Homo sapiens: one gene and its partners. The protein of the gene in region 3 purifies or fractionates together with the protein of the main gene of each other region. This does not show direct contact. Each region holds a gene or a part of one and is shown on either strand. Other genes may lie near its edges. The genes, in order: PITRM1, SIRT3 and REG4.

Region 1 (2,432 bases), on a different chromosome or scaffold from region 3:
CGCCCACTCCTTCCTTGATTTCCCACCTGGCCTATTTGACTCCCTTCATCCACTTTAGGAAAAGGCCTGTCTGTGGAAGCGGCGACCTGGGGCTGATCTCACCACGGGCGTCTTCAAGGAGCCTGTGTCTGTGCTGCAGACCCTCCCATCATTGTCTGCCCCGCCTTCTGTCGGAGGTGGATGTGTTCTAGAATCAGCTTGAATGTGATGTTACCGTTCACAGTGGAAGGCAGAGGAAATTGGCCCTGTTCCTAGAAATGTGCTTTATCAGAGAGTGTGTGTTTTCTTAAGGGATTCTTATAAAACTCACTTCAGTTTCCTTTCTTTCCATATTCTGATGTGAGACATTTAAATAAATGTTCATTTGCTCATTTGCCTTTATAATAGAAATAACCTCTTTCTACTTCACGAGATTTTAAAAATGCCACATGTGCATTGGAACAAGTTAAGCAGTGTGGTGCTGGAAGTGTTAAGATTCCCTCCCCACCACCTCTCCCTTCAACCCTGTAATCTAAGCCAACTGTTTGAAAATTGTGCTTCCTTGTGCTTTTTAGTTTTGGTTAATTGAAAAGAAAATCTCATGCCTGTAAGCTCAGCACTTTGAAGGCAGGAGGATCACTTGAAGCCAGGTGTTTGAGACCAGCCTGGGCAACAAAGCTAGACCCTGCCTCTACAAAAACTGTAAAAATAGTCAGGCGTGGTGGCACACACCTGTAGGCCCAGCTACTCAGGAGGCTGTTGTGGGAGGATCCCTTGAGCCCAGGAGTTCAAAGCTGCAGTGAGCTGTGATTGCACTAATGCACTCCAGCCTGGCGACAGAGCGAGACCCCATCTCTTAAAAAACAAGACCAAAATATGGGACCATAATTTATGCAGCATTATTTTACAACTCGATTTTCATTTTCACTTAATCCAACAATTACTTCATTGTCTATGCTTTTTTATCAGCCACGGTATTAACTTGCATTTTTTAATCATTTCAGTCTTAAAATCCTTGCACGTTTGATGACTGCCAAATTCTTGCATACAGAAATTCGAGAAAAAGGCGGTGCTTATGGTGGAGGCGCAAAACTCAGCCACAATGGGATTTTCACCCTTTACTCTTACAGGTGAGTTTTGCTCTAGTTCACACATTGGGATGCACACGTCGTTTTAGTCTTCTACTCATGATTATCAGTGTCATTTTCTTCTACTGCAGTGAATTTTAGACAAAAGTTGTTCTGTGTGCTTCTTTTCACTCCTTGGGCACTTAGCCACACCCAGCAATGTCCTTTCTGGCGCGAGGATTAGGGCCAGCAGCCGAAACAGGAAGCATTCTGCCTTCAGTAAACCCTGGCTTCAGCCAGCATATTTTGGCAGAACACGGTAGTGCCTCCATCCGTGGGTTTGCCTTCCATGGTTTATTACCCACAGTCCCCCTCGGTCTGAAAATATTAAATGGAAAATTCCAGACATAAACACTTCCTAAGTTTTAAATTGTACACCATTCTTCTAAGCAGTGGGATGAAAGCTGACGCTGTCTACGGTACCTGCCTGTTGGTCACCCAGTAGCCGTCTAGGTATCAGATACGCTGTGGGTATCCAAGAGCTTCTGTTCACAGAACCCTTGTTTTACTTAATAGTAGCCCATCAGCGTAACTTTTATTACAGTATAATTGTTGTATTTTGTTAATATCTTGCTGCACCTAATCTATAAACTTTATCATAGGTATAGGAAAAAAACATAGTATCCATAGTGGCTGTCTGAGGTTGCAGCCCTGCCGTGGGGGTCCTGAAACACAGGCCCCAGGTGAGGGGGCTGATACAGCCTGAGAGCGTTCTTAGCTCATTTCAGTTGGAGGTGCCTGATGTGGATGCAGTTCTGTTAGCTTTCATAAACATAACACCGTTACTGTAAAGCAATATTCTTGATTTTCTATGGCTTTGCTGCCTAAGAGAACATGTATTCCAACAGTTTTTAAGAAGGAGCCAGCCGGCCGCAGTGGCAAGTGCCTGTGGTCCTAGCTACAGGAGGCTAAGGCGGGAGGATCCCTTGAGCCTGGGGAGGTTGAAACTGCAGTGAGCAGATTGCGCCACTGCACACCAGCCTGGGCGACAGTGAGACCCTGTCCCGTGGATGCATAGCTAGATTAGGTAGGTAGGCAGGCATGTAGGTAGATACGTAGGTAGCCATTGCCACTCTGATGAGTTCTCCCCCTTGCTGTGCTGGAAGCCATGCTTCTAGACAAGGATGGGGAAGCAGCTCACAGCCGCCCCTCTGCAGCTCAGGGTGAAGGGAGGGCTGGGCTCTTTGCATTTACACGAAGGGAAGTCTGGATTGGCCCCCTCAGGCTGATTCCTGTACTACCCTGGGTGTGTCTTCAGGGAGATGAAAGGAAAACCTTTGTTTGCTTAATTTTTCCATGTAAGTCTTTGTAATTTCCCTGTAATCC
Region 2 (3,655 bases), on a different chromosome or scaffold from region 3:
TTCGGGCCAGAGCCTGCCAGAGGGTGGTGGTCATGGTGGGGGCCGGCATCAGCACACCCAGTGGCATTCCAGACTTCAGGTACTGCCCACAGTCCCACCTGCCTTCTGCGCTCCCCTCCCCTGACTCCTGCCCTCCCCACTGCCCAGTTTATTCCACTTCCCTGTCCTCTTCCAAAGGCCTCAGAGCCTTTCTTCTCTCCCTGCAGATCGCCGGGGAGTGGCCTGTACAGCAACCTCCAGCAGTACGATCTCCCGTACCCCGAGGCCATTTTTGAACTCCCATTCTTCTTTCACAACCCCAAGCCCTTTTTCACTTTGGCCAAGGAGCTGTACCCTGGAAACTACAAGCCCAACGTCACTCACTACTTTCTCCGGCTGCTTCATGACAAGGGGCTGCTTCTGCGGCTCTACACGCAGAACATCGATGGGCTTGAGAGAGGTGAGCCCTCTGTGAGTCGCACACATTCTTTTTCTCCCACGGAGGCTCGGGTGCCTGTTTCTCCCAGGGAGGCTCGGGTGCCTGTTTCTCACAGGGGATGCTCGGGTGCCTGTTTCTGGGGACGGCCAAAACCTATCGCTTATGCTTCTTCCTTGGGACTTTTTTTGAGCCAACTAGTTAGGGCTTTGTTCCCAAGGAAAATGTCCTCTGGGTGTTTAAAGGCCACTGCTTGTTCTCCTGCATACCTGCAGAGCTGTGTATTTTGGGCAGAAGTTGACATTGTTTTGCCAATCTGGTGTGATGATCTCTTTTTTTCTTCTCTCTTTTAAGAAGTGTATTATGGAATTTTTTTGAGCACACACAAAGAGAGCAATGTAACGAACCGTCCTGTCCTCATCACCAGCACACAGCCAGTTCTTCCTGCGTCCTCACCACCTTCTTCCAAATCCCCAGATTATTTTGAAGCAAATCTCTCACATCATGAATTTAATCTAGAAATAATCTATAAACACATGAATGGATAGCTCTAGAGAATACTTTAAAAACAACTCCGGCCGGGTGCCGGATTACAGGTGTGGGATCACACCTGTAATCCCAGCATTTTGGGAGGCCGAGGCAGGTAGATCACCTGAGGTCGGGAGTTCGAGACCAGCCTGGCCAACGTGGCAAAACCCCGTCTCTACTAAAAATACAAAAAATTAGCCAGGCGTGGTGGTGTGTGCCTGTAATCCCAGGTACTCGGGAGGCTGAGACAGGAGAATCTCTTGAACCCAGCAGGCGGAGGTTGCAGTGAGCCGAGATCGTGCCACTTCACTCCAGCCTGGGCGACAGAGGGAGATTCTGTCTCAAAAAAATAAATAAAAATAAAAATAATTAAAAAATAAAAACAACTCTGATAGTGATTCACACTGAAGAATCACTAGTAATTCCTTAATATGGTCACACTTAGTCTGTGGTGATTTCTTGACCGTATCCATATGGTGCCCAAACCAGCGATTCACAGGTTGTGCCAACTTCTGGCCGTGCACCTAACGGAAGCACTTGGTGGGGCCTTTTCCTTACGTGCAGTGATGCAGACAGGTGCTGGGACAGTCAGCTCTCCGGGAGCCAGGCTCCCGGAGAGACTGCTGATGTGTTGTCAGTTAAAAAGAGGTGGCACCTTGGCTCCAGGAATGTGTTTCCTTGCCAGAAGGATCCCCTGACTTGGAACCACAGAGGCAGCAGCGGATGCCCCATGTTGGTGGGCTCTTCTCCCAGAGGTGCAGCAGGGCAGGCCTTGTGGGAAGGTGGGAGCTCCTGGCTGTGAGATTCAGCACTGCTGAGTTAGGGCAGCGACAGGGACTTGGGAAGCCTCCTGCAGCTGGGACCCTGGCTGTGCCACCGCAGCCTTTCAGAACCAGTTAATACTAACACAACTTTCATAAGAAGTCACTTTTTGTCTGTTTCTACCAAGCAATTCTTTTGGAATTTATGATATTTATATCCTCATTTTAACTTGGTATCTGTAGAATAGAAGATATGTTCCTGGATATTAGATATAAATTTTTGAGACAGGGTCTTGGCTCTGTTGCCCAGGCTAGAGTGCAGTGGCATGATCATAGCTCACTATAGCCTGAACTCTTGGGCCGAAGTGATCCTTTTGCCTCAGCCTCTGGAATAGCTGGGACTACGGGCATGCACTACCATGCCTGGCTAATTAAAAAAATTTTTTAAGACAAGTCTCACTATGTTGCTGAGGCTGGTCTCAAACTCCTGGCCTCAAGTGATCCTCCTGCCTTGGCCTTCCAAAGCACTGGGATTACAGGCATGAGCCACTGCACCCAGCCTGGTATTAGGTGTAATTTTTTTTTTTTTTTTTGAGACAGAATCTCGCTCTCTTACCCAAACTGGAGTGCGGTGGCACGACCTCAGCTCACTGCAACTTCCACCTCCCGGGTTCAAGCGATTCTCCTGTCTCAGCCTCCCCGAGTAGCTGGCACTACAGGTGCCTGCCACCACATCTGGCTAATTTTTGTATTTTTAGTAGAGGTACGGTTTCACCATGATGGCCAGGCCGGTCTTGAACTCCTAGCCTCAAATGATCTGCCCACCTCGGCCTCCCAAAGTGCTGGGATTACAGGTGTGGGCCACTGTGCCCGGCTGGATATAATTTTATTTGAGCTTTTATCAAATGGTTTTTCGTACTGAGTTTTGACAGGCTTTGTTTTAACCGTGATTTGGCTCCAGCTAGGTGCCCCTTTGCTCCCCTGCCTTATTCTGGTTGATGGCGCATGTAGGTGATACGGGCATGAAAACCAGGCTTGAGGACATCACAACCCCAAGGGGCTGTGCCTCCTTCCAGGAGTCCTGCCAAGCCCAGAAGTTGTGCTCTTGGCCTTGCGTGCTCATCTCGGAGGCGGCAGCAACACTTCGCTTTGGCTTGAATTTCAGTGTCGGGCATCCCTGCCTCAAAGCTGGTTGAAGCTCATGGAACCTTTGCCTCTGCCACCTGCACAGTCTGCCAAAGACCCTTCCCAGGGGAGGACATTCGGGTGAGTTATCCTGCTGTTGGTTGTCCTTCTGCAGTTTGCTGTTGGGGTGATCTGGAAAAGTGGTATTTTATAAGCATTGTCTCGAAAGGACAGTTGAACAATAATAGTGTGAAACATTTTATTTGTAAATTAGAAAATCAATACATGCTTGTAAAAAAATTTAAGACAATATAGAAATATGTAGGGAAAATGAATCTCCCTTCAGCCAATTCCAGCTGCCCACTTTTTTTTTTTTTTTTTGAGATTGAGTCTCACTCTGTCGCCCAGGCTGGAGTGCAGTGGGCGATCTCGGCTCACTGCAACCTCCGTCTCCCGGATTCAAGGAATTCTTCTGCCTCAGCCTCCTAAGTAGCTGGGATTACAGGCGTGAGCCACCACGCCCGGCAATCAGATGGCCTTTTGTGCCGAGCTTATTTCCTGAAAATGTTTCTCGCTCCTTCGCCTTGTAGCTTGTGTTAGTATTTCATCCTGTTTCATGGCTAAATGTTCCACTGATGTATGCACCACAGTTGGTTTGTTTGTACATGGATGGGTGTTTGGGTTGTCCCACCTTTCTGCTCTTGTGTATAGTTCTGCTGTGGAGCATATGCAAGTATTCGTTTGAGAGTCCTTGTTTTTTATTCTTTTGAGTATGATACCTACAAGTATTGCTGGGTAACTCCACGTTTAGCTATATTTATTTATT
Region 3 (3,655 bases):
GTTTGCCATGAGCCCTGGAAGGCCGGTCTTTGCCTGAGTTCTTCCCTTCTGTCTGTTTCCCTGAATCCTGTCCCCAGAATGTGGTGGCCTGAAGCTCAGCGCAGGCTGCACACACTCGCGTGAGCCTTCTCCTTTCTCTGGCCTGCTTTCATTCTTTGTCTTTATGCTCATGAGTTAGACTTTTCAGCATTCATACTGGTGACATCTTGGGCTGGATACTTCTTGGTTGTGGGGGCTATCCTGTACATTGCAGGAGGTTGAGCGGCATCCCTGGTCTCTAATCAGTAGGTGCCAGTAGCACTCCTCCTCCCAGGTCGTGACAATCAAAAATATCTCCAGGCATAGCCAAGTGTTTCCTGTGGGGGGCAAATTCACCCCCTGGTGAGAACCATGATTAATAAGCGGTGTAGAAAACTTCAGCTGTACAAGATCACAGAATATTAAAGAATACTCAGTGCCAAAGGTCGTATACTTGAGAATATCCCAGTGGGTCTAATAGGCCATCATAGTGACACCAGGACCCCCTGCCAGCCAAGAAGTCGGCCTGGAGCAGGCCTGGGCTGAGGTCTCAGCTATTGGGCTGGGGTAGGGAGGGACTTGGTCATCCCCAGCAGGACATGGGGGCAGTTTACTGTTGTCAGAGGAATAAACTTATAAGAAGGAAAGAGAGAGTGAGAAAACTTTCTAACAGCATGAGGCAAAGGGCAGGCATGAGGAGACACACTCTGAGGAAAGCCCTCAGAGATAAACAGCCATAGAGGGGATTTTCACAGACCAGTGAGAGCACAGCTGCTGCTGTTCAAGGCAGAAGTTGGCTCAAATGGAAAAAACACAACCAAAACCAATAGGTAGAGGCTATCAACAAGTGGATTTTTACTCCAATCAAGGAAAAAATTTTAAACAGTTAGCACTGCTCAAACACATAATGAGCTACCCCAGGAAGTAGTGAGAAACCTTATAACCAGAGTTAACCAAGCAAAAGGTGGACATTGTAGTTGTTATTGCAGTTGACGCATTAAGTGTTAGAAGCGAGGCTCCATGGCACAAAAGAATCAAATGAGGAACATTGTAAAAATACCAATATCAGGGATTCGTTTTCAGACCTGCAGCATCAGAATTTCTGGGACTGGAGGCCAGACCTGCTTTGGGAGCAGTAGACCAGATGCCTCCCTAAGTCCCTCACATTCCCCAGATTCTGACATTCCCATTGGACAAAGTCCTCAAACGAAAGTCCTTTCCCTGTGAGTCGATGATCACATCAGCAAAATTCAGTAGCGAAGTTGCCTCTGTTGTGTGGATGGGAACCAGAAGCCTGAAGCTCTCTGAGAACAGCACGTCTTTGGGTTCCTTTCCTTTCCCATGGTTACTTACCCAGCTCGTGGCTGTCAGAACACAGGCTCTCAAGGCAGAAAAGCACAAGGAATGAAGCAAGGATTTGAGAGAAACTGGTGGAAGGTAGAATTTAAAAGCCCATCCCCCTCAGCCACATCAGTACAATGGATTTTGCTCCCCACTCAGTTTCTATTTTTTTTAATTCAAAATGTATATTAATGCCCCAATATACAGCCACACACACATTCTTGTTCTCTCTTTGTGACAGGGCTGTTCCTTTTTTATAACTCTTTAGAAAGAATTCCAGAGCATTTTATTTTGTGTGTCCCTCTCTCACCCTTTCTGACTCTCCCCTTTACATCAAAATGTGTTTTGTGACTCTGGAAAATTGCAGCTTGCAATGTTTCCTGATGTTTTGCTGGTCCACTTTGAGACATTTAATAATGATAACTTGGGTTTTGCAGTTGGAAAAGAAATTTCATATTCAGTATACGTTGAGGTCAAGAGCATGGGTTCTGCATTCTGAATGCCCAGGGTAGAATTCCAGCTCCTCCTAGCTGAGCTGTGTGACCCTGTGCAGATCTCTGACTTCTCTGTGCCTCAAATGCCTCCTTATAAAAAGGAGGAAATAATCGCCCTAATCATCTGAATACATGTGGCATGCTTATCACGTGCAAGCTAGGCTAATGGCTCCGTGGCCTGGAGAAAAGGGAAAGTAAGGTTTCTCAGTCACCCTTCCCTGCACTCCGCCTCTGATGAGGTGGGAAAAGCAGACCTCTTGCTTAGTGCCTATAGTGAGCTGGGCTGTGCTTGATTGTTTGAAGCTGCTATTCTAGCTTATCCACAGGCTCAATGGGCAGCAACCTCAAAAGGACCTGCTGATGAGACAGTCAGTCTCAAGCCTGGCCCATGGCCTTGTGCCGTATTCTCTTTGCCCCACACTGTGAAAGTACCCACAAGCTTGCAGGCCCTGTTTCATTTATACTCTGTGGCTCCTGCGCTGAGCACTATGGATGCAGGCATGGGCAGGCCCCATCCTCTGTGGCTCCTGAGAACCAGGAGTGGGAGGGGCACACCTCACCCCCTCCTCTCCCCAGGGTTCTCACCCACCCACACGCACTGGGAACAGGGCCAGATCTGCAGGTCAGGGCCCAAGCAGACACCTAGCCAGGGAACAACTCCTCGCTCTGCTGCAGACACCCATGGAAGACAAGTGATGCTGTGGAGCTTGGCTTCTGGGAGGGAAATAGTTGGATCTCACCTCAAAAATACTTCAGTCCTTCAAAAGGCCACCTCCGCCTTGGGCTCTCTCCTTTTTCATAAGCAGATGGCCTGTTGGGATGTGAATGGCTTTAGCAGCTTTCAGTTCTTTGAACTTTGAACAGGAGCTTCTTAGAGCCTCAGCTGTGGGCTTGAGGACAGGCCACACTCAGATCCTCACTGCATCCTGCCTCAACACAAGAGCCCCTCATTCTCAGTTGATTCATGTCAACCCCTGCCTTTCCTCAAAAGCAGTGCTGGAGTGGAGCTTTTGCCATGGTGTGTGACATTTCAAGTGTTTTTCTTTCATTGGGAAAGTTGGTATCTGTATTACGGTTCTCCAGGGAAACAGAAGTAGTTGGATGTATATATAGAGAGACAGAGATTTACTTTGAGGAATTGGCTCATGCAATTGTGGGGGCTGTGAAGTCTCAAAACCGCAGGACAGGCCAGCAGCCTGGAAATTCTTGCAGGACTTAATGTTGTTGTCTTGAGTCCAAAGACGGTCTGGAGGCAGAATTTCTTCCTCTTTGGGAGACAGGTCTTTTCTCTTAAGGCCTTCAATTGATTGGAGGAGGCCCACACACATGATGGAGGGCCATCTGCTTTACTCAAAGTCTACTGATTGTTAAACGTTAATCACAGCTAAAAAACACCTTCGCAGCAATCAAACAACTGTACATCATAGTCTAGCTAAGTTGACACATAAAGTCAACCATCATATTGCCTTATCTATGCTTCCAAGAAAAACACCCAGATAACTCTGGCAAGCTCAGTATAGTACTGAATGGATTTAAATATCTGTTTATTTTCTTACAGACTTTTTAACTTGGAGCAGCAACGAATGCAACAAGCGCCAACACTTCCTGTGCAAGTACCGACCATAGAGCAAGAATCAAGATTCTGCTAACTCCTGCACAGCCCCGTCCTCTTCCTTTCTGCTAGCCTGGCTAAATCTGCTCATTATTTCAGAGGGGAAACCTAGCAAACTAAGAGTGATAAGGGCCCTACTACACTGGCTTTTTTAGGCTTAGAGACAGAAACTTTAGCATTGGCCCAGTAG

The links.
Region 1: the proteins of REG4 (region 3) and PITRM1 purify together in Homo sapiens (affinity purification with mass spectrometry; one large-scale study listed by BioGRID and IntAct). This does not show direct contact.
Region 2: the proteins of REG4 (region 3) and SIRT3 purify together in Homo sapiens (affinity purification with mass spectrometry; 2 studies listed by BioGRID and IntAct, with this or other methods). This does not show direct contact.

What each region holds. Positions count from the first base shown.
Region 1 is NC_000010.11:3,139,364-3,141,795, reverse strand, and holds part of PITRM1 (presequence protease, mitochondrial isoform 2 precursor), read left to right. Parts: intron 1-26; exon of another isoform or gene 27-195; intron 196-983; coding exon 984-1,109; intron 1,110-2,432. UniProt on the Homo sapiens protein: Metalloendopeptidase of the mitochondrial matrix that functions in peptide cleavage and degradation rather than in protein processing. Has an ATP-independent activity. Specifically cleaves peptides in the range of 5 to 65 residues.
Region 2 is NC_000011.10:229,767-233,421, reverse strand, and holds part of SIRT3 (NAD-dependent protein deacetylase sirtuin-3, mitochondrial), read left to right. Parts: coding exon 1-79; intron 80-206; coding exon 207-439; intron 440-2,715; exon of another isoform or gene 2,716-2,869; coding exon 2,870-2,970; intron 2,971-3,655.
Region 3 is NC_000001.11:119,794,442-119,798,096, reverse strand, and holds part of REG4 (regenerating islet-derived protein 4 isoform 1 precursor), read left to right. Parts: intron 1-3,411; coding exon 3,412-3,479; 3' UTR 3,480-3,655. UniProt on the Homo sapiens protein: Calcium-independent lectin displaying mannose-binding specificity and able to maintain carbohydrate recognition activity in an acidic environment. May be involved in inflammatory and metaplastic responses of the gastrointestinal epithelium.